Regions from separate parts of the Homo sapiens genome. Here region 1 is linked to region 2. A link means that fine-mapping ties the variant in region 2 to the expression of a gene that starts in the linked region. Tissue or cell type: skeletal muscle. Region 2 holds a variant in brackets; the other region holds the start of a gene. All regions are shown on one strand. Distances are between the middles of the regions.

Region 1 (10,998 bases), 950 kb after region 2:
GGATCATGAGGTCAGGAGATAAGACCATCCTGGCTAACACAGTGAAAAACCCCATCTCTACTAAAGATATAAAAAAATTAACCGGACATGGTGGTGGGCGCCTGTAGTCCCAGCTACTCGGGAGGCTGAGGCAGGCGAACGGCAGGAACCCAGGAGGCCGAGGTTGCAGTGAGCTGAGATCACGCCACTGTACTCCAGCCTGGGCGACAGAGTGAGACTCCATCTCAAAAAAAAAAAAAAAAAAAAAAGGCCAGGCGCAGTGGCTCACGCCTGTAATCCCAGCACTTTGGGAGGCCAAAGTGGGCAGATCACGAGGTCAAGAGATCGAGACCATCCTGGTCAACATGGTGAAACCCCATCTCTACTAAAAAAAAATTAGCTGGGCATGGTGGTGCGCACCTGTAGTCCCAGCTACTTGGGAGACTGAGGTAGGAGAATCACTTGAACCCAGGAGGTGGAGGTTGCAGTGAGCCAAGATTGTGCCACTGCACTCCAGCCTGGTGACAGAGCGAAACTCTGTCTCACAAAAAAAAAAAAAAATTGACTTTGGCTGAGCTCAGGGGAGTTAATTCATTCAAAGGTAGAGGAAAAAGTGCTTCTTAGCTCTCTCTGAAATGTAAGTTTGGCAATATAAAACAAACGGATGGTTAACAAAAGCTACAAAGTATTCCTAACTACCATCAGTTGTCTTCTGAGCAGAGAAAGGGACAGAGTTAGGTTACCAAGATGTTACATATTGAACAAATGGAGTGAATTGTACCTGTCAATGTCAGTTTGTCCAATCAAAATTAACATAGACAAAAATAATATTATTAAGGTTTCAATCAGCAATTTACTCTTGATACTCTAATCCCATACGTGCGGACTAATGGCACGTGGTAGGTGTCCAAAATGTGCCAAGGTTCCTTGAGGCTCTAACTCCAGCCCCACCCATGGTAATTCACTCTTTTGACCTAGCAGCCATATCTCTCTAGACAACTGAAAAGTATCTGGGTTTCTGTCTCCCATATCACACTCAGAGGGCCTTGCACTCACTGTAGGTTCTTAAAAAAACATTAAAATTCTTGGCTTTCTTGACTCTTGGGGTCTCTGTTCAATCTTTTCGCTTCCAAGATATTCCTCTCAAGCCCAGCATTGAAGGTCACCCCTTGCTCATACAACAAGGAATCTACATGAGCTATGTCTATTACAGGATTCCAGTGCAAATGTCACCAGTCTATGCGTATTAAAACAATTTGGTCAATGGTCAGAGAAAGGAGTATATACTTCATTTTATCTCTATGGTTAACCCTGATTCTCCATTCTTAAATGACAAAATCCTGCATCTTGTATACTAACTTATCTCAATCAATAGAAAGAATCAGCCAGGCGCGGTGGCTCACTCCTGTAATCCCACCACTTTGGGAGGCGGAGTCAGGCAGATCACGAGGTCAGGAGATTGAGACCATCCTGGATAACACGGTGAAACCTCGTCTCTACTAAAAATACAAAAAAATACCCGGGCATGGTGGCAGGCGCCTGTAGTCCCAGCTACTCGGGAGGCTGAGGCAGGAGAATGGCGTGAACCCGGGAGGTGGAGTTTGCAGTGAGCTGAGATTGCGCCACTGCACTCCAGCCTGGGCGACAGAGCGAGACTCCGTCTCAAAAAAAAAAAAAAAAAAATAGAAAGAATCTTCCATCTCTCCATAGGCAGGACACACAGTCTTGATTGCTGAAGGACAGGAAACTCTCCTCCCTTTCTCTCTCCCTCCTCAGGACCGGCCTCAGGTCATGCTTTGGCCTCAGGTCATGCTTTGGATGAAGAGATAACTGCGAACTACCCCTCCAAGTGTCCACCCATATACCATCCCTTTAGCCTAAGACTAGCTGGCCCTGCCCAGCTCCTCCACTTCCTGCAGCCCTGGTTTAGCTTCTTTCTCCAGAAAGGTCTCCTCCTTTACTCTTGTACTCACTGAGCACCTCACCAGTGGCCAGGAACTGCAGCGACAAACCTAACAGCCAAGATTCTCCCTGCCCTGAGGAAGGAACCCAAACTGAAAACCATCAACTCTAACAGATGGTGGAATGAAACAAATGTCATGCAAGGTTCAAACACACTAATGTTGGCACACAGGAGGGGGAGAAGGAAGCAGAAAGAAAATTAAGACAGTAAACTGCATTTGAGCTGGAAGGGGTTAAGTGGAAAGAAGCCAAGCAGAGTTCAGGGCCACAAAAATGGCAAGGGCAGGCCTCGTGCGGTGGCTCACGCCTGTAATCCCAACACTACGGGAGGCTGAGGCAGGTGGATCACAAGGTAAGGAGATCGAGACCATCCTGGCCAACATGGTGAAACCCTGTCTCTACTAAAAATACAAAAAATAGCTGGGCATGGTGGCGCACGCCTGTAATCCCAACTACTCAGGAGGCTGAGGCAGGAGAATCGCTTGAACCTGGGAGGCAGAGGTTGCACTAAGCAGAGATAGCGCCACTGCACTCCAGCCTGGTGACAGAGTGAAACTGTGTCTCAAAAAAAAAAAAAAAAAAAAAAGACAAGGGCAAAAGGACCTAGTGTGAACAGGCAGGACAGAGGAATGAAAGGATGGAGAGGAAGATGAGGCTAAGCTGGGGGGTAGAAGCGGGAGGCAATTAAGAGCTGTAGAGAGCTCCTGAAATGATCCAGTCTGGCTCCAGAAAGAGTTTTAGGGACACCCTTAGCAGGCCTCCAAAGTAACCAAGAGACCAGTTGACAGAGTTAGAGAGTTGATGAAAATGAATCCAGGACTCTCAGCTGGAGTAGCCAGAGGGTACTGGTGCCACTGATCAAACCAACAGAAGAGCTAGTTCCATCTGTGGTCATGATGGGTGGGGGTGCTACCAGCAGCCAGGAGTGGGCAGAGGCCCGGGCCAGGAGCCCGCTCACATTCCCCAGAGACAGGCAAGTATGTGCTCAAGAGCATGGTGCTCTAAAGCCAAATGCATGGCTTCGATTCCCAGCTCGTACAGAAAAGCTGGAGACCTTGGGCAAGTTACCCCTGGGCCTCAGTTAAACAGGGATGCTAATAACAATCAGTCTTCACCTCATGGGGCTGATTTGAATGTTAATAAGCTGACATACCTAAGAGCTTAGAACAGTGCCAGGTACACAGTAGGTGCTCTGCAGTCGCTCCTGAGTTCCAATTGGCAAAAGTGAGGAAATAACCCTGATTCTCATCTCTAATGCCCCAAAACACTGGGCTTGTCCATCAGGAGACGACAAGTGACCTCGTTGGGCAGGTGAACCCAAGCCTTCCACGTCCTCAGACTACAACCCAGAATATGTAAGATTATCTTATCACAAGGGGATTTCAGAAGGGTCCAAATCAAAAGGTCTTTTCAAAAGACTCTAAAGTTATACTAAATTTTCATTCTTCTCTCTTAATTCTTCTTTCCAATGGCAGCTCAGAAAGATGGTTCCAAGATACTCTGAGTCTCTGCTTTCTATGTAACTGCCACTGGAATCAAACAGCTTCGCTCACCTAAGCTGGGAGTCAAATCCCAGGTTCTGACAATTACTGAGTTAAAGGCCTGATTCAATTCTGCCCCTATTGGTAGTTTAGAGGAAATACACCCAAGGGTCTTCAGGGACACTTCTCAAACTGACAGGTGGCTGCAAGGGTAGAGAAAACCTACAGGAATGACAGTTGCACACTGCAGCGCTTAATAATCGCAACTCCATAAAGTGGACAAGCCTACTGTTATTATTGCATTTCACAAAGAGAAACGGGCTGTCCAAAGAGGCTCAGGGTGCTATGGTTAATAAACCACAAGACAGAGATTACAACTCATTTCCAGATACCCTGGTTAATTCCCGTTCCACTCTGGGGGAAGAGAGATGACCCCCATTCCAAGATTGAGAGTGGTATAACTCCAACGGGGTTCCAACCCTGGTGCCCTCCTCTGGATTGAGGAAGAGTAAATTTATGCAAGGATTCAAATGTCCTGGGGTAATACCCAAAGGAGAACTCCCTGAGATTAATGACGCTCCACTGTGTATTTTAGGACTTGCCAAGAGATGATAGCCTTCCCCAAGAGTTCTTAGAAGTTGAGAAGTTACCAAGATCCTGCCAGCTCAAATCAAAGGCACGTTTTTAAGTAAACTGAATCAAGGTGCAGAGCCACATCCCAGGAATTAGAGAATAACAGCCATTTACAAACAGTAAAACCCAAGTAAATCAACCGCCTCTGCTCGCTCCTCCAGACTTGAGGCTGGGTAACTTCTGCTTTTCTTGGAGGTTCACGCGCCATCACTACATTAATATGCCTCCTATGCCCTCGGGACCGCCAGAATGGGAATATGAGCAGGTTGTCGCACAGAACGGTAATGGCAAGACATTTTCCCAAAAATGTGTTCCCATCAGATATTGAAATTCCAAGTATGTAACTGAGCAACGCTCCGTTGCCTCACAGCTCTTAAAACAACCTCCCTCCAGCTAATCCCCTCCCAACTTGTCCCCTACCTCAAATCGTAGCCCAGGCCCGGGCCAGGAGCCAATCCCCTAATCCCGGGCATTTCAGAAACTCAATTCTGAGCGCGCCCCTGGCCCTGCCCGTCCCCGGCCCCGGCCCCATCCCCACCCCCATACCCCGAGGCGGGGAATGAGAGCTTCCCGGCTTGGCCTGAGGCTCTTTCTTATGTAAATGACCCGGCCGCGGTGAGCGCTCAGCCATAGGGAGCTGCGGAGCCAGGTGGGAACAGACAGGTCGAGGCTTAAGGAAAAAAAAGCTCGTTTTCGGAAGGACATAAATCTCAAGAATCTCAAGTAATCCAGGAACGCGGCGCGTTGGCCTCTCCGAGTAACTTTTAGGGCAAACCAGAAAGTAACAACCAAAGTCCTCCCCTTACTCAGAGGCAGATCCTGAGGACACGAGGCTGGGCGGTCCCGAGGCTGATTTGGAGGGGCGGGGGTTAATGGGGGACGCCCCTCGCCGAGCCTCAGTTCCGGGCGCCACAGTTCCGGGGAGGGGGCGCGGCGGGCGGAGTTCCTCTGCCCCTTTCCTACTCCTTCCCGGGTCAGCTTCTCCTCGAGCCCACCCCCGCAGGGCCGCGGGGAAGGAGAAGGGAACCGCTCGTCTCCTACACGCGGTCCGCGAGCGCGGACGGCCCCCGGCGGCCCCACGCGGCAGCGGAGCAGCCTCCCGCAGCCACGATTCTCTCCACGTGCTCTCGCCGGAACTCGCGCTGCAGAAGGGGGCTCCCTCCCACGTGGGCGCAGCAATCCCTGACTACCTGCGGGGTGACCCGCCCCTCCAGTAACAGGGAAAAAGGGACTGGGGGAGAGAGCGTGAGCGCGTGCCGGAGCTCAGGGAGGGAGGGCGCCCGGCGGAGCGCGACCTCGGCTCCCCGCCCGCGCGCACTCGCCGGCTGTGCTTAGCGGACGTGGCTCCTGGCGCCCAGGAGTGTCCCGGCTGCCCAAACTTTTTCCGCTCCCAGGCCCGGAGTAGGGAGGAAGCGGGTCCCCGCAGGGTCGAGGAAGAGACTGATGGAGGCCAGACCACTTTGCCAGAGCCCAGCCTGCCGCCCCGCCCGCGCTGACTTACCTTCTGCACTTGGTCATGGTTGAGCTCCGTGAAGAAGTAGGCAAGCAGATGCGAGGCAATCATCCTGCCGCGGCCCGACGGCGCAGAGTTGGGAAACCGAGGCGGAGACGCGAGAGGGGAGGCGGGCGGCGCGGTCCGACTGCTTTGTGCTGGGGCTCGGCTGCCGGGCCGGGAGCTGGGAGTCCGGACGGCGCACAAAGAAGGCTACCGGCGAGGGTGCGCCCGGCTGGCGGAGGGCGCGGGTCTCCGGAGACGTGATTTTGGCGTCACAACTGCTAGAAGGCGCCTCAGTTCTCTCCTGGCGACGTGTCCGGTTGTCCCACGTCAAGGCGCTAACTTCGGCCACAGGATCACTGAGGCTCAACTTGAGAAGAATCTCAGCCCGGCTCCACTCGGGCAGTGGGACCTCTCCGATTCACAGGCGCGTGGCTCGGGCCCGCGGATTTTCTTAGCTGGGTGACACGATGTTGCCAGCGGCAGCCCGGGACTCCTGCGCCGGAGTTTCATGCAACAATGTGGCTTATTGAGGGGCTGCCGGCCCGCGGGCCTCCGGATCAGTGACGTGCGCACGCCCATTGGCTGCGCGGGGAGGGTGTGTGCGCCCACGGACCGCCCGCCGCCGTGGCGCAGCCAATCATCGCTCACGGCTCGCGGGCGCGGCCGCTCAGACACCGGAGCCGGCAGCCTGGGGAGGCGCGCCGGGGGCGGGGGGCGGGGGAGGGGCGGGGCGCCTGAGATGGGACGTGTGGTCCGTGGCTAAAGGCTGGGACGGAAAGGCGCATGAGCCACCGCCGCGTCAGGCTCGGCTATGGGTGGGGGGAGCGTGATCGCGGACCCGGGGTGTGGGGCGACTGGAAAAACGGGCCTCTGGACCAGCACACGCCCTGTGCGGAGAGACACTGTCTGGCATCTCGGGATCATGTGAGGGGCTCCCACTGCCCAGTCACACGTCTAAAGCATCCTAGTTCTTACCTATTGTAGCACGGCCGGAAAGTGAGCCGCCTTAGCTGCTGATTGTACTAGAGCAGGCAATACAAGAGTCGGCCCATCCTCAAAACCACTGATAGGATGTGAGTTTCACTAACCCCGTTTTACAGATGAGGAAATTGAGGCAAGGCCAGGGCTCACACCTGTAATCCCAGCACTTTGGGAGTCCAAGGTTGGAGGGTTGCTTGAGACCAGGAGTTCATGACCAGCCTGGGCGACATAGTGAGACCCCCATCTTCCCAAATAAAAATAAATAAATCAGCCGGACATGGTGGCATGTGCCTGTAGTCCCTGCTGCTCAGAAGGCTAAGGTGGAAGGATAGCTTGAGCCCAGGAGTTCGAGGCTGCAGTGAGCTATGATCATACCACTGTACTCCAGCCTAGGTGACAGAGGGAGACCCTGTCTCAAAAAGAAAAGAGACTTACACGAGGTCACATAGCTAATAAGTGGCAGATAGGGAAGAGAACCCTTGTCCCTCTACTTTAAGGCCCTATTCGCTTGCCCCATTATCCCATGCTGCCTCTCTAAGAGCCAGAGAAGTAGGAGGTAGAAAAAGAGCATCTCTGCAGCTCTGGGACTGATGATGTGAATGAACTGGGTAGATGGTAAGTGTGTAACTGGGTGATCTTGGACATGGGATGGGGTGGGTGAGGAGGCTTACCAATGCTGAGAGGAGTGGAAGCTCCAACCCCAGCTAATGCTAGACACCAGACTCCAAATTTAAACACACAGTGGAAACTGGCAAGAATGAAATACTGACTTCAATACAGATTTCAAGAGACATGACATTAGCACTGGTGGAGAATGGCAAGCCTAAGGTTGGAAAAGGTTCAGGGAAGGAAGATGAAGGTCTGCCATGTTCTACTGAGGAGGAGTTTTTCAAACAGTGGGGTGCTGTCTGCAATGTGTACAGCCTTAAAATTATTATATAAGTAATCAATACTCATTGTTGAAAAATAATATATGGATAAACAGGAAAAATAAACAAAAATCATAATCCATCTAGCCTCTCAGCAAAACTTCCTTTTTTTTTTTTTTAAAGCAGGGACTCGATATGTTGCCCAGGCTGGTCTTGAACTCCTGGGCTCAAGCAGTCCTCCCACTTCAGCGTCCCAAATAGCTGGGATTACAGATGTGCTCAGCAAAACTTCTTGAGAACTATGTACCCTTCTAAATGCACGTCCTCAACCCTCCTTCCCTATACTCCACACAGAATTGAGCTCAAACTGCTTTTGTCATAGTCATCATAATGACCTACATGTTGCCAAATCTTGCATTCTCTTCTCTTCCCTGCCCTTGTCTTACTCCTTCTCTCAGGGATGTTGAGGACAGTTAATCACATCCTCCATCTGGACACACCTTCCTCTCTCAGTAAGAGCACCAGTGCTCCACTCTGAGGGTTTCTGGCTAACCTCACTCCCCAGGCTCCTGAGTCCCTGTTTGCTCTATTGGTAAATGCTGGGGTATTCGGGGCTGCCCTCCACCCTCTTCTCTGAACTAGTTACAGTTTCAAACTCCCTGAGGAGAAACTAACTTCCTAGCCCCATGACTGTTATATCATATGCATGCTGATGACTCACCATAGTAAATCTACAGCGAGGTCCTCTCCTGGAGTTGCAGGCTTATTTCTCCAGCTTGCCATTTGTCATCTCCACTGAAGTGACTAGCATATCACACTTAACATGTCCAAAGCTGAACTCAACTTTTTTTCCCAAATCTTTTTCTTTCCCAGTTGTCTCAGCAAATGGCATCGCCATCCACCCTAACTCGTCTTCGATTCCTTCTTGCCACTCACCCTCACAGCCAGTCAATCCATCAGCAAGCAGTTAATTCCACCTATAAAACAGACCGTGCATCTGACCACTTATCTCCATGCCCTTAGACACCTCCTGAGATCTTCCCACAGAATACTGCTTGGCATTCACACTAGCATGCTTTCCTCAAAAATACAAACTCTTTCTCACCCAAGGGTCTTTGCTCTTCCTTTTCCTTCTATCTAGAATATTCTTCTCCAGGCCTGTCTCCAACTCATTCTTCCTCCTCATTGACGTTCCACTCAGATACCTCCTCATGATGCAGGGCAGGCAGGCCCCAAAATTTGGACTTAGCCTGGGAAGATTTTTGGCTTCACCCAGTAAAGAATTCAAGGGATGCCGGGCGCGGTGGCTCACACCTGTAATCCCAGCACTTTGGGAGGCTGAGGTGGACGGATCACGAGGTCAGGAGATCGAGACCATCCTAGCTAACACGGTGAAACCCCATCTCTACTAAAAAAAAAAAAAATACAAAAAATTAGGCGTGGTGGCGGGCTCCTGTAGTCCCAGCTACTCGGGAGGCTGAGGCAGGAGAATGGCGTGAACCCGGGAGGCGGAGCTTGCAGTGAGCCGAGATCGCGCCACTGCACTCCAGCCTGGGCAACAGAAAGAGACTCCATTTCAAAAAAAAAAAAAAATTCAAGGGCAAGCAGGTGGCATTAGACAGCAGCTTATATTGAAGTGGCAGTGTACATCAGGAGCAGAGGCACTGGTCTTTGCAGAGCAGGGCTACCCCATAAGGCCGTGTGCCCAGAGTAGCAGCTCAGAGGCAGCTCTGCACTCATATTTCTACCCACTTTTAGTTAACATGCAAATTAAGGGGCAGGTTATACAGAAATTTCTAGAAAAAGGTTGGTAACGGGTTGTTGAGTCATTGCCATGGAAAGGGGCAGTGACTTCTAGGTGTTAAATCTGGAACTCTAATCTAGAGTCTGGTCCCGAGTCTTAGCCCCCACCTCCAGAGTCAAGTCCCCACCTTCTACCTCATCAGGCTTTCCTTGACCAGTTTATCTCAAATAGTTCCCCAAGTCACTATCACTTGGCCCTAGTTGATTTCCTATTTATTTTCGCTATGTTCTTCCTCTCCTCAATAGATGATAAGCTAAAAGACAGCAGGGTCTGTGTCTGTCATTCCTTCAAGTTTGCAGTGCCTAAAATGGTGCCTGACGCATGGCAGACATGCAATAAACATTTATTGAATGAATTCATAGAAGAATCTTAGAGATGACTACTGTTCACATGTTGTGTAACAATACACACACACATAGAGTTTATAGTTTTATATATTATTTCCCAAATCTTTTCCCATTTCTCTGTCTACCCTAGATCATATGCCCAGTTATCTCTCACCTGACTGGAACAGCCTCATAACTGGGCTTCCCTCTTCAGATATAGACACCATAAATATATAGACTTAGATATTTAACAAAGATTCTTTGTTTGTTTGTTGTTTGTTTTTTGTTTTTTTTAGATAGGGTCTTGCTCTATCGCCCAGGCTGGGGTGCAGTGGCACAATCTCGGCTCACTGCCACCTCCGCCTCCTGGGTTCAAGCGATTCTCCTGCCTCAGCCTCCCAAATAGCTGAAATTATAGGCACTCACCACCATGTCCAGCTAATTTTTATATTTTTAGTAGAGACAGGGTTTTGACATGTTGGCCAGGCTGGTCTCAAACTCCTAACCTCAAGTGATCGCCCATCTCAGCTTCCCAAAGTGCTGGGATTATAGACATGAGGCACCACACCTGGCCCCAAGATTCTCAAAGCAGGAAATTATACAATCGCGTTTGCTTTTTTAGGGCCATAACTGCCCTCCATGTGGATGGGGAGGGAAAGAGGTCAGAGACCAAAGGCAGAAAGAGGCAGAAGCTATAAGGTAAGACTAGGACCTAAGCCAAGATGAGAGTGGGGCAGGGAGGAAGGTTATGGGTTTAGGTATTGTGAAGTCAGAGGTGGAACTGATGGATTTGGCTGGGGTGGGTGAAGGAAAATGAAGAGGAGGATGCCTGCTGCCTAGAATCGGATGGAAATTCAATAGCCTGGTGCTACAAAATGTATTGTCTCCAGGCAGGTAGAACCAAAGCCAGTGGGGTTGGGTCAGCTATGATACTTTCTTCACACACTAGTTTTAATGCCTCTTCTCCACTCCCCTCTGTGGTCCCATTTCATGTGAACCGGATAATAATCATAAGGAACTTTAAGTACATGTTATCTCTTACAAAGTTCCCAGTAATCCTGGGAGGTGGTTGGAATCAGTATTGTTATAGGCCAGGCACAGTGGCTCATGCCTGTAATCCCAGCACTTTGAGAGGCCGAGGTGGGCGGATCATGAGATCAGGAGATCGAGACCATCCTGGCTAACACGGTGAAACCCCATCTCTACTAAAAATACAGAAAAAATAGCCGGGTATGGTGGTGGGCGCCTGTAGTCACAGCTACTCAGGAGGCTGAGGCCGGAGAATGGCGTGAACCCGGGAGGCGGAGCTTGCAGTGAGCAGAGATCATGCCACTGCACTTCAGCCTAGGGGACAGAGCGAGACAGGTCTCAAAAAAAAAAAATTGTTATTAACCCCAATTGATACACAACAAACGGAGGGGAGGCTACCCACATAAGGCTGACTTGTTTCTGTGGTTCTTCTGCC
Region 2 (10,998 bases):
GACTTTCATTCACAAGAATCCAATCCAAGAGCTTCGCTAATTCTAAATTTTCATGTGGCATCTAACTTCCTTTACTATTTAATTTATGCAAAACTTTTGGATTATGTCAAAGCCTCATCACTTTCTGAAACCTTTTATTTCCTCTTCATCTCCATCATCAGCACTAAAATTTGCCTCCTGTTTTTTGACCACATGGAGTGACCCTGGCACATTTTGGAAAATACACAACTGAACCCCAAGTCCGGAGATGCTGATTCACTGAATGTTGGGGGTGACCCAGGAATATTTTCCTTGTGCTCTCAGATAATTCTAATAGACAGCCACATTTTAAAGATAATAGTATTTATGCAATATGCACAACTCAGTAGAACCAAATGGAGATGTCACGAGTGCTGATGATCTAGATAGAGACTTATTCCTACATAAGTATCATTGTGCATGATTTAAACTCAAGGAAAATTATAAATGACCATCTATTCTGAATCCTCATGAGCTTAGCATCTACTTTGCTTATTTGTATTTTGGTGCCACTGTTTTCCCCACTCCCTCCAGCTGCATGTGAGGAAAATGTTTCATCTGCAAAGTAGGTTTCTCCGCTACCAGAGCCCTCTCCAGCATGGGTGGAGATGCCTTGAATCTGCATTCTAGCAGGAAACTCCCAATCATTATAGATTTCTTGGAGTAGCAGCCTTCCCCTAACCTATCCTTTCATTGCCTGGCCCTTATTATGGCAGATGGTATTTTACAAAGAGGGCTTCAGCAACATCTCCCATCCCACATGTTCTTCTGCCCCTCCTCCATTAAGAGATGAAGTCTATTTCAGGGCTGGGAGCGGTGGCTCACGCCTGTAATCCTAGCACTTTGGGAGGCCCAGGCAGGCCGATCACGAGGTCAGGAGATCGAGACCATCCTGGCTAACAAGGTGAAACCCTGTCTCTACTGAAAATACAAAAAATTAGCTGGGTGTGGAGGCAGGCACCTGTAATCCCAGCTACTCGGGAGGCTGAGGCAGGAAAATGACGTGAACCCAGGAGGTGGAGCTTGCAGTGAGCCGAGATCACGCCACAGCACTCCAGCCTGGGCGACAGAGCAAGATTCCATCTCAAAAAAAAAAAAAAAAAAAAAAAAAAAAAGAGATGAAGTGTCTATTTCACAACCTCCTTGAATCTGGGTGGACTTGGAACTGCTTAGAGCAATAGAATGCAGTGGAGGTTACCCAGAGGGACTTCTGAGGCGCGATCATAAGAGGCCTAGGAGCATCTGTTCTGGCCTCTTGGGATGCTCCCTCTGGGAACCCAGCTGTCATAGTGAGAGAAGCCCAACGCACACGGAGAAGCCATGGGCAGTGTTTCAGTCAATAGCCTCACTAAGCACTGAGCTAAGTCCTCAGCCAACAGCCAACATCAACCACCAGCCACGTGAGTGAGCCATCACAGATGTCCAGCACAGACAAGCCTTCAGGACACTGCAGCCTCAGGCAACACCTGATGGCACCCACATGAGAGGCCCTAAGTGAGAACCATCCAGCTGAACCTAGTCAAGCAACAGAAAGTACTGTAATAAATGATAAAAATTGTTTAAGCCACTAAGTTTTGGAGTGGTTTGTTGCACAGAAATAAGTCACTGCGAAAGTGCCTATGACTAGACTTTTACCCCAGGTATTCATTTACACCCTTTAGTTCCCTGCTGGATTTACAGGAGGTCTCTGAACCTGCTTATTTAAGGGCCAATTTGGTGATTCCTGACTAGTCCCATCTGCGTCCCTGTCCCATAGTCCTCCTTCTTCCACAGCTGACGCACTGGTCACCCACCATAGTTCAACTTACCCCATATTCTGGAACCAAGTTATCTTTCTGGACCTATAAAATCCAAACTCCTTGTCTTGATAGCTCTCTAGCAACAAATCTATCAGTGGTTCTCAACCTTGACTGCACATTGGAATTACTTGGGAAGTATTTTTTAAAAAATACTTGTTTACGGCCCAGTGCGGTGGCTCACGCCTGTAATCCCAGCACTTTGGGAGGCTGAGGCAGATGGATTACGAGGTCAGGAGTTTGAGACCAGCCTGGCCAATATGGTGAAATCCTGTCTCTACCAAAAATACAAAAATTAGCTGGGTGTGGTGGCACGCAGCTGTAGTCCCAGCTGCTTGTGAGGCTGAGGCAGGAGAATCACTTGAACCCAGGAGGTGGAAGTTGCAGTGAGCCGAGATCCTGCTACTGCACTCCAGCCTGGGCAAAAGAGCAAGACTACATCTCAAATTAAAACAAACAAACAAACAAACAAACAAACAAAAAACCATAGTTACTGGTTCCCACATGGTTACGGGTTCCCACCCCCAGAGATTCTCATCTAATTGGTCTGGAAAATGGCTTCTCTGTGCTGCCACTACTGCCATTTTGGTCCAGATAATTTTTTGTTGTGAGGGGCTGTCCACTGTATTGCAAGATGCTTGGCCATATCCTGGCCTGTACCCACTAGAAGTCAGTAGCACCCTTACACTTGTGACAGTCAAAATTGTCCACAGATGTCACCTAATGTCCCCTAGGGAGCAAAATCATCCCCAGTTGAAAACCGCTAGTCTAGATTTTAGCCTGGGCATCAGGATATCTCAAAATTCCCCAAGTAATTCTAAAGTTCAGGCAAGGTTAAGAACTGCTGACCTAAAACAGCATTGCTTTTCAAATTTAAGCATGTATATGAATTACCTGGGGACCTTGTTAAGATGCAAATTCTGGTTCAGTAGGTTTGGGGCAGGCCCAAGATTCTGCACCTTTAACAAGCCTCCATGTGCTGCTGTCATTGTTCTCAGTCCACTTTGAGTAGCAAGGAAGTCAGACACTGCAATTTGCCTGTGGGGTGAATTTGCATTTAGCACCCTCACCTGGGCACCCCAAGGCCTTACCCTAATTGCCCCCAGGGAAAATTGGTTATTGGTGATTGTCAAAACAGACTATGTTCTCCACAGTTGGCAAAGATGTCTGAAAACATGGTAGCAGCAAAATTACTTCAAGTAAATTATTCACTTCTTAGGGATCAGTGTGCTGCAAACTACATATTGCATTTCACCAGTGTAGAAGCTGCCAGCAGATTAGGGGGAAACTTCTCTACAGTTTGCTGCTTGCTGTTGCCAAGGTAGGAAGCCAAACAATGCCTTGAGCTGCCAGCCTTTTTCAATAATACACTTCACATTGCCAGTCGCGAGAAAGGCTGTGTGGGACCCAGAGACTTTCCTGCTGCTCCAGCCCCTCTCCAGCATTTTAAGTCCACAGCTTTAACATATGTCATAGGGGTTAAACAAATGAGTCAAGAGAGCAGATTTTAATTTGAAGAGGGATTTCAGGAAGTCAATTCTTGCTCCTACAGGACAGAGGTCAAGCTACAATCGAGTCAAGACAGACTAGCCTTCTGAAATTTACACAGAACTGTGGAAAGGTCACATCTCCCTCCACTCGTGACTCAGGAACACAGAGGGTTTGTATGACTGTTCAGCTTTGGCTTTTGTCCAAGAGAAATGCTCTCTTTTCACTCCAGAGGTATTTATTTGCGCTAGAATCACTTCAGAAGTATGTCCTCTCTCACCTGTAAATTTAGCCAGGAACTTGAAGATGCTAGTGGCTCAGAAGTCTTCCAGGCATATTATTTAAATCCTACTGATTCCAAAGAAGAAAAAGGTGTCTGGTTGTTTGGGGATCTACAATGGACTACAAAATGTATCTATAGACTATCTGGTTGGCTCAAAATGTGAAACACAGTATTTCTCTACTTAAGTCTTGTCACCTTAAAAAAGAAAGCAAACAAAAAACACCAGGAGGGGTGAGTAAATCTTGGCTGTCCAGAGAAACAATTCTAATTTATTTCAGAGAGTGCTTTGAGTATAGAAACTGTAAGAGAGATTTCTGCTCTTCTACCTCATTTCTGTAAGAAACAATTCTAAACAAACTTTAAATACAATGTTACTACTTAATTCTAAATAGATGTTCTGCCCTGAAACCCACCTCTACTTCCTTACTACGGAGAAAGGGATTGACAATGACAGAGAAAGCTCAAGTTCCCGTTTACCCCTTTTTCTGAAAACTTCATATGCAATCAGACTTAAATGGCTCTGATGGCCTCTCCTCTGGACTATACCCTGGATCCTCTCACTAGTTCTCAACTGGGGGTGATAAAGTCTCCAGGGACATTTCCAATGTCTGCAGACGTTATTGGTTGTCACAACTCAGGGATTACTGCTGGTGTCTTTAGAAGCCAGAGATGCTGCTAGATGTCCTACGAGAAACACAAAACAATTCCCCACAACAAAGAATTATCTGGTCCAAAATTTCAATCATGTTTACTGTCAGAAACCTTGTCTTAGATTTTTAGAAGTTAAAAAAACATCCTCAACCAAAGCCTATTGAAGACTGCAGGCCTCATCTTGCCACCTACAATTCTAACCTGACATAGAAGACAGAAAGAGAGGAAGAGAAAGAAGAAGGACCCCTACAAGTAATTTCTTTACTCCTCTCCAAGGACAGAGATCACATTCTTGTTCCTTTCTGTTATGCCAGAGGGTAACAGTGACTGAGTCATAGTGGTTACTTAACAAATATTTGTTGAAGGAATGGATAAATCCCACCCCTCAGTTAAATGATGTCCTCATATGAGAAAGAAAAGGAAACATATCTTAGCTGTAAGATGAGCTCTCCTGTGGCCAGCAGCCTGGGGCTTGCTCAGACAGTATAGTACAGCCTGGTGCCTCTCAACTTTAATGTACATATGAATCACCTGGCAGTCTTATTAAAAATGTAGATTCTGAATCGCAAGGTCCAGGGTGAGGCCTGAGAGGCTGCATTTCCTACAGATGTCCAAATGAAGCTGATACAGTCCAGGTCACACTGCAGGGCAGCAAGAATAGACGATGTCTAGAGTTGAAGCCAGGACATTTACCAGCTTTCTCAGCCTCCATGTCCTGTTCTAGAAAACAGGGAGGATGATAAAATCTCTGCTATGCCCACATCCAAAAAATTGACAATTATGTCCTGATAGGATCTAAAAGCTTTACAAGGGATTTCAGAAATCATGTAAGCTAAACTCTCCCATTTTTAAGTGAGGAAACAGAGGCCCAGAGACATCTTAGCATGTCCAAAGTCACTCTTGTGATTGGCTATAGAGCCTGAACCAGATCCCTCACACTGATCCAGCCATCGTTCCTCCCTGTGTGTCCAAGGTCACTCTGGTGATTAGCTATAGAGCCTGAACCAGATCCCTCACACTGATCCAGCCATCTTTCCTCCCTGTGTGTCCAAGGTCACTCTGGTGATTGGCTATAGAGCCTGAACCAGATCCCTCACACTGATCCACCCATCGTTCCTCCCTGTGTGTTCTGACTGCACACGCTGCCTGGTGCCTAGTACTGCAGGTCTGGCTGTTGTTTACTTGCCTGTGCTTTTTCCCTGATGGCGTTGCATAATGCCTTGGCTAAAAATGAACACCTACCACTCCTCCAAGTGTACCTGCCACTTCATCCATATCCGATTGCCACATCCAGTGAGACTGGCCACCTGCTGCCATGTTCCTGAAATCAGTTCTTACATTCTGCTGCTCAGTTTTGTGCATCACAATGTCCTTATACTGGATTTTTCTCCCCTGATGTATAAGAGGTGCACAAATCAAATTAACCACAGGTGAAAAAGAGCAGTTAGCCCAGTGCCAAACAACAGAGCAGACACCGAGCTGGGATTAAAGCCCCACATTTTGATTCCTGGTGCATACTCCAAACCTCTTCAGAGAGAACACAGCCCTTCACTGTTTACCAAACTCTCATTAGTCCAACAGCCTGTTGTCTTAATGCTAAAAACCTGCTAATCAATAGCAATTTAGGTGAAGGGAAATTATGTTTAAAGAGAAACATTCTAACACTTATAGGTTCATTTTCAGAATCTTACCCTCCAATTGTCTCAGAATAATCTTGGGCCTGCTTTTCTTCCTTTCCTGCAAGTAGATAACACTGTTCTGAGAACTCAAGTTGTATTTCTGTCCTGTGTCTTTCCTCGCCCCTCATTTGAAGCATTCCTCCGAGTCTCGTGTATTTTAAGTGCCATCTAGTGGTAGATCTTCAGATGTTAATAATATAATGAAATTTAACTTAAGGATATTTGGGGAAATAGATGGTCTGCAGATGATGGAATAATCTCTCTACCTGAGAAATCACTATATCTGCTATATGTGGTTACCAATATTCAGAGTATTTAAGTACTTTTTTCAAATAATCCTGC[G/A]TATTAATTTAAGCATTCTTTTGAAAATCTTGTAACTTCTCAATCAAAAAGCATTTTCAAGATCTTTACAATTAGAGATTTTCAATTACATATTAGAAATAAATTAAAGCATTCTGCATAATTTTTTAATTTGAAAGACAGGTTTTTAAAACTTAAAGCTGCTTAACTCCTCTGCGTATCTTCCATCAGCGTTTTCTATTTGCTTTGATAACTCTACCCACTTCTTCCCTTACAGAGAAGAAGAACAACTCAGGATTTCCCTCTACAGAGGGACAAAGAGTCTTTCCTTGCATCCTCTTCCTTGGAGAGGAGGGATATTGGAAAGACTGATCCTCCCTTCCCTTCCTCCACCCACTTAGGCCCTTCAGCATCTACTCCTTTTTAGGGATTGAATCTGTCTGAATAGTCATATGATTTTGGTTCCTCTGTCCATTATCTGTGCAATGACAGACAAGCCAGGATGAGAAAAAATTAAGAAATGTTTCTACAGACTTCTCACCAAATCCTAACAGGTTTGGAGTTATTATTTGAATTTCCAGCTCCAGGCCTGATGCTGCTTCTTCAAGATCAAAGGGATTATGGCAGAAACACACTTAGAAAAGTAGACTCCAAGTACTTAGAGAAAATATGTACAAATGAAATACAGCCAGGAAAATATTAAAACAGATGTTCTTCTACAGCACAAATGGCAAGTCCAAAAGAAATTTTCATTATAAATGATTAAATATACTCGAACAGCAGCTACTATTAAATGCTAGCTTACAATTCATTTTGTTTTTTATAGCATTCATTTTTCTTAATATAAATTTTTATAAATATAAATGAAAAATATAGACAAAAGTAAAAAGTAGAATATAAGTTATCCTCATACATCCTGTAGACACAAGCCCTATTAAAATCCTTTGGGTATTTTTCTGGTACATGTCTAGGTATGAAGATTGGGATCATATATATGTAAGGTTTTGTCGTGATTTTTTTTCACCTAATAATATATTTTGAGCATCTTCCCAGGTCATTAAATTTACAGTGAATATAGTTGATGACATGGGAAGATGCACCAAGTTTAATTTAACCAACACTTATTCATAGACATCAGATTGTTTCTAAATTCTTACTCATATCTAAATAATTCTGAGATGAACTTCCTTGTATACAAATAAGGCAAATGTAAATATTTATTACAAATTGATTTCTAGAACTTGAACTACTGGGTCAAAGGATGTGAATGTGTTGAAGTTTTGTGATACACAACAACAAAGTGGTGACTAGAATTGTAGCCATTAATTAACACTCTTAAAAGTACCTCATAAAGGTACAACCGTGACATTTTCTTTAAAGAGGGAGGCTGCTGCCTACCCACCCTCTCCTCTTTAGGATGTCTCCTTGAACATACGATAGGCCTGATTTAAAGGCTCAGCCTTTTATTAATAATTTTACAGTGCAAATATGTGGGCTTTTTAACATGTAAAACTGGCTCCATAATTGGTTCAGGGGTCTCCCACAAGGGATACATAAGGCAATCACAAGTGCATCCTCTGGTCTCTCAAGAGAAGTGTTAGTTGTTCTATCTTCCACCTTCCTACATAAGTTCGTATCAAATTCTGTCCAGACTTTGTAATCACTTTCGTGCTACCCTACATGCATGTAATTCTGATAAATACCCAATATTAAAATTATGTTCTCTCTCCCTTTCATATGGGTACAAAAGGGCCTTTTGTTCCTGAGACTGTTTTACTTCTGTAACAACCTGGTGGAAATAACTATGTCCCACAAATTGGTGTTTCCATGGACATGGCTGTCTGGTAACAATAATGGGAAAACAATGTAATTCTAGAACATTCTAGCTGAATTCACTCAATAGAGGGAAATACACTTTTTTTTTCTTTTTTTTTTTTTTGACAGAGTCTCGTTCTGTCGCCCAGGCTGGAGAGTGCAGTGGCGCAATCTCAGCTCACTGCAACCTCCGCCTCCCAGGTTCAAGTGATTCTCCTGACTCAGCCTCCTGAGTAGCTGGGACTACTATTATTGACAAATTTTCTAAACTCCCATCAGGTTTCTCAGGTCTTACATTGTTATTTTCTGGATAACAATTAGAATTTTTATTGTTTTTAATAAGAAAATAAAATATTTTAAAACATGTACCAAAAATAATTCCCAAATTGACAAGTTCCACTTTAAATCTAAGAAAAAGAAAAACTCTCATATCTGAAGTTTGCTTTTTCATTCCTGTTGAAGTTCCCTTCAATAACTAGGGGAGGCTCAATAACTTTGCCCAATTATTAAACCAGAATAGTAATCAGGAGCCATGGCTGAAACTCCCAATTCTTTACCCCAAAACTGTCAGAGGGGATTTTCAACTCTGAACTCAAACAAAACAACAGGATTGGTGAAGGATGACTAAATCCACCTCAAATATGAAACTGCCCATATTTGACCATTTTTGGTTTAGAAAAAAAGTGGTATTCATATGGTACAAGCTAATAGAACCATTTATCATTATCAAATCATAGGGACATAGACAACTAGAAGCAAATATCCAGAGATACCACTACTCACTGGTACTGGACACATCCCAGGCAGACCAAGAGGCAGCCACATGACCGTTTATCCTCCACCTGCCATCCTCATTTCCTGTAGCTATTACCAAACGACTAGGACAGGACCCAAAAAAATCATCAGCGGTGAGAGTAGTCAATCTAGAGAGGAGAGTGTCAGGTTTTTCTTCTTATCCCATAGAATGGAATGAGGAGGATTCCCACCTGCCCCAAACTACCAAGGAAGGCACCGAGATACTCACAGAGATGTAGAGCCAACAGGAAGGGCAGACAGACATGTCATTATAAAATAGCTTTTGGATGGTAACAGCCCTTTCCCAAAGCAGACCTCCTTCTTGCCTGGAGACTAGACTGCCTTTGTAGGACTAATATTAGCCACAAAATTAGAAATGATGGTTTAGCAGTCATGCAGCTGGAGGCTGCAAGATTCTGACCCTCCCTAAACTGCTCCTAAGATCAGTGCTTGAGATACTTTGCATCCCCTGCACTTGATGGATCAGCTGGCACCACCCAGATCAATAAACTGGCTCATCTGATCTTGTGGCCCCCACCCAGGAACTGACTCAGCGCAAGAAGACAGCCTCAATTCCCTATGATTTCATCTCTGCCCAATCAGCACTCGTGGCTCACTGGCTTCCCTTCATCGACCAAATTATCCTTAAAAACTCTGCTTCCTGAATGCTCGAGAGACTGTTGTGAATAATAATAAAACTCCGGTCTCCCACAAAAAAATAAAATAAAATAAAGTAGCTTTTGATTCAGACTTGCTCATAAGCCCTCCTGTGCCTATTTGAGCTAGAGGAGATGGGAGTTGGTGAGATGTGGCAGGACAAAATGGGAATGACAAGAGGAAGGCTTATAGTCCCACCTTTTGTCATAGCAAAGCTGTGTCAGTCCCATTGGATCAGGTGGGTATATATTCAAGGTAGCTGTGCCTGAACTGCCTTAGTATTAGACAAGTAGAATCAAGAAACAAGAGACTACAGGGTGACGGCTGAGAGGCAGGGACAGGGAAATGGGGTAGAAGAGGAGAAGCCAGAGGTCTGTAGTGGCAACTATGCAGTTTGGAGGCCTTCCTGCAAGGGCCTTGAAAGAACCATGCTTAAGTCCCTAGAGAGAAGAACACCTACATATTTACACAGAGAAGGGACTAACTGCCCATTGCTGGCTGGGGAAGCTGCAGTGTATAAGAAAGGATTACAATGGTGAATTAGTAAGTATAAAGTTCTCTGCCCCTTTCTCTGTTACCTCTGCATTGCCCCAACCTATAGTAGCTGGTAGAAGTGAAGGAGCTTCCCCCATTACAAATCCACCCAGCCATAGATAAGGCATGTGACAGGAATCAGGGAGAAGACGAGATTAGAGTTGATTAGAGATTGAGTTTTAATATCTACTCATGCCCAAGAGCTAGTTAAGAAGAAAGAAAGGGAGATGCAACCGAGCATGATTAAAAGCAATGGATGGAAAAAATTTTTTCATTATTGTACATTGACAAGTTCAGACTGTTCAATAGGCCAGTTACACTGGTATCTAGACTGATGAACTAATTGAAATTTCTGGGTCATCTCTGTGGCTTCATTTGCTAAAAGTTCTGCTCTTACAGTGTAATTGAATTCAAAGACAAGAAATCACCAGTGTCAATTGTAAAGAAGAAAGATGAACTTTTATTTGGAAAGAAACTGCATCAAATTAAATTAAATACAGTTTGTTGTTTTGTTTCAACTCACTTCTGTCACATATAATATCTAAGGAGTAGACACAACCCAGTCCAAATAGTATTATCAACAGCACCAAAAAAAAAAAATGCATTTGGTTTATTTCATTGATGGGGTGTGGAGAGAAGAATAAAGCCAGTGGTTCTTGTGTTCAAAAAATATATAGTTAGTTAAGGCCGGGCGCGGTGGCTCATGCCTGTAATCCCAGCACTTTGGGAGGCCAAGGCGGATGGATCACGAGGTCAGGAGATCAAGACCATCCTGGCTAACACAGTGAAACCCCGTCTCTCCTAAAAATACAAAAAATTAGCCGGGCGTGGTGGCAGGCGCCTGTAGTCCCAGCTACTTGGGAGGCTGAGGCAGGAGAATGGCGTGAACCCGGGAGGCGGAGCTTTCAGTGAGCCAAGATAGCGCCACTATAGCTTGGCCTGGGTGAAAGAGCAAGACTTCATCTCAAAAAAAAAATATATA

Which allele goes with the higher level. Positions count from the first base shown, and alleles are read on the strand shown. Sizes are in standard deviations (SD) of each study's normalised expression.
For the expression in skeletal muscle of the gene that starts at base 6,213 in region 1, A is the low allele of the variant in region 2 and G is the other (moderate effect, 0.58 SD a copy in GTEx).

The links. PIP is the estimated chance that this variant, and not a neighbour inherited with it, causes the effect.
Region 1: it holds the start of HK2-DT, and the variant in region 2 is fine-mapped to the expression of HK2-DT in skeletal muscle (GTEx, PIP 0.95).

The regions. Positions count from the first base shown.
Region 1 is chr2:74,829,202-74,840,199 of GRCh38, reverse strand. It overlaps HK2-DT (HK2 divergent transcript), which reads left to right and starts at 6,213. Exons shown (of 1, transcript NR_185897.1): 1 at 6,213-7,545. HK2 (hexokinase 2) reads right to left here and starts at 6,073. Exons shown (of 18, transcript NM_000189.5): 1 at 5,557-6,073. The coding sequence starts at 5,619. RefSeq lists silencers at 2,836-2,993, 4,932-5,181, 6,102-6,331, 6,512-6,581 and enhancers at 2,804-3,319, 4,632-4,701, 4,479-5,355.
Region 2 is chr2:75,782,803-75,793,800 of GRCh38, reverse strand. No RefSeq gene overlaps it. Among named protein-coding and RNA genes, the nearest start is that of GCFC2, 77 kb to the right of the region's middle. The variant G/A (reference allele first, on the strand shown) is at 6,258.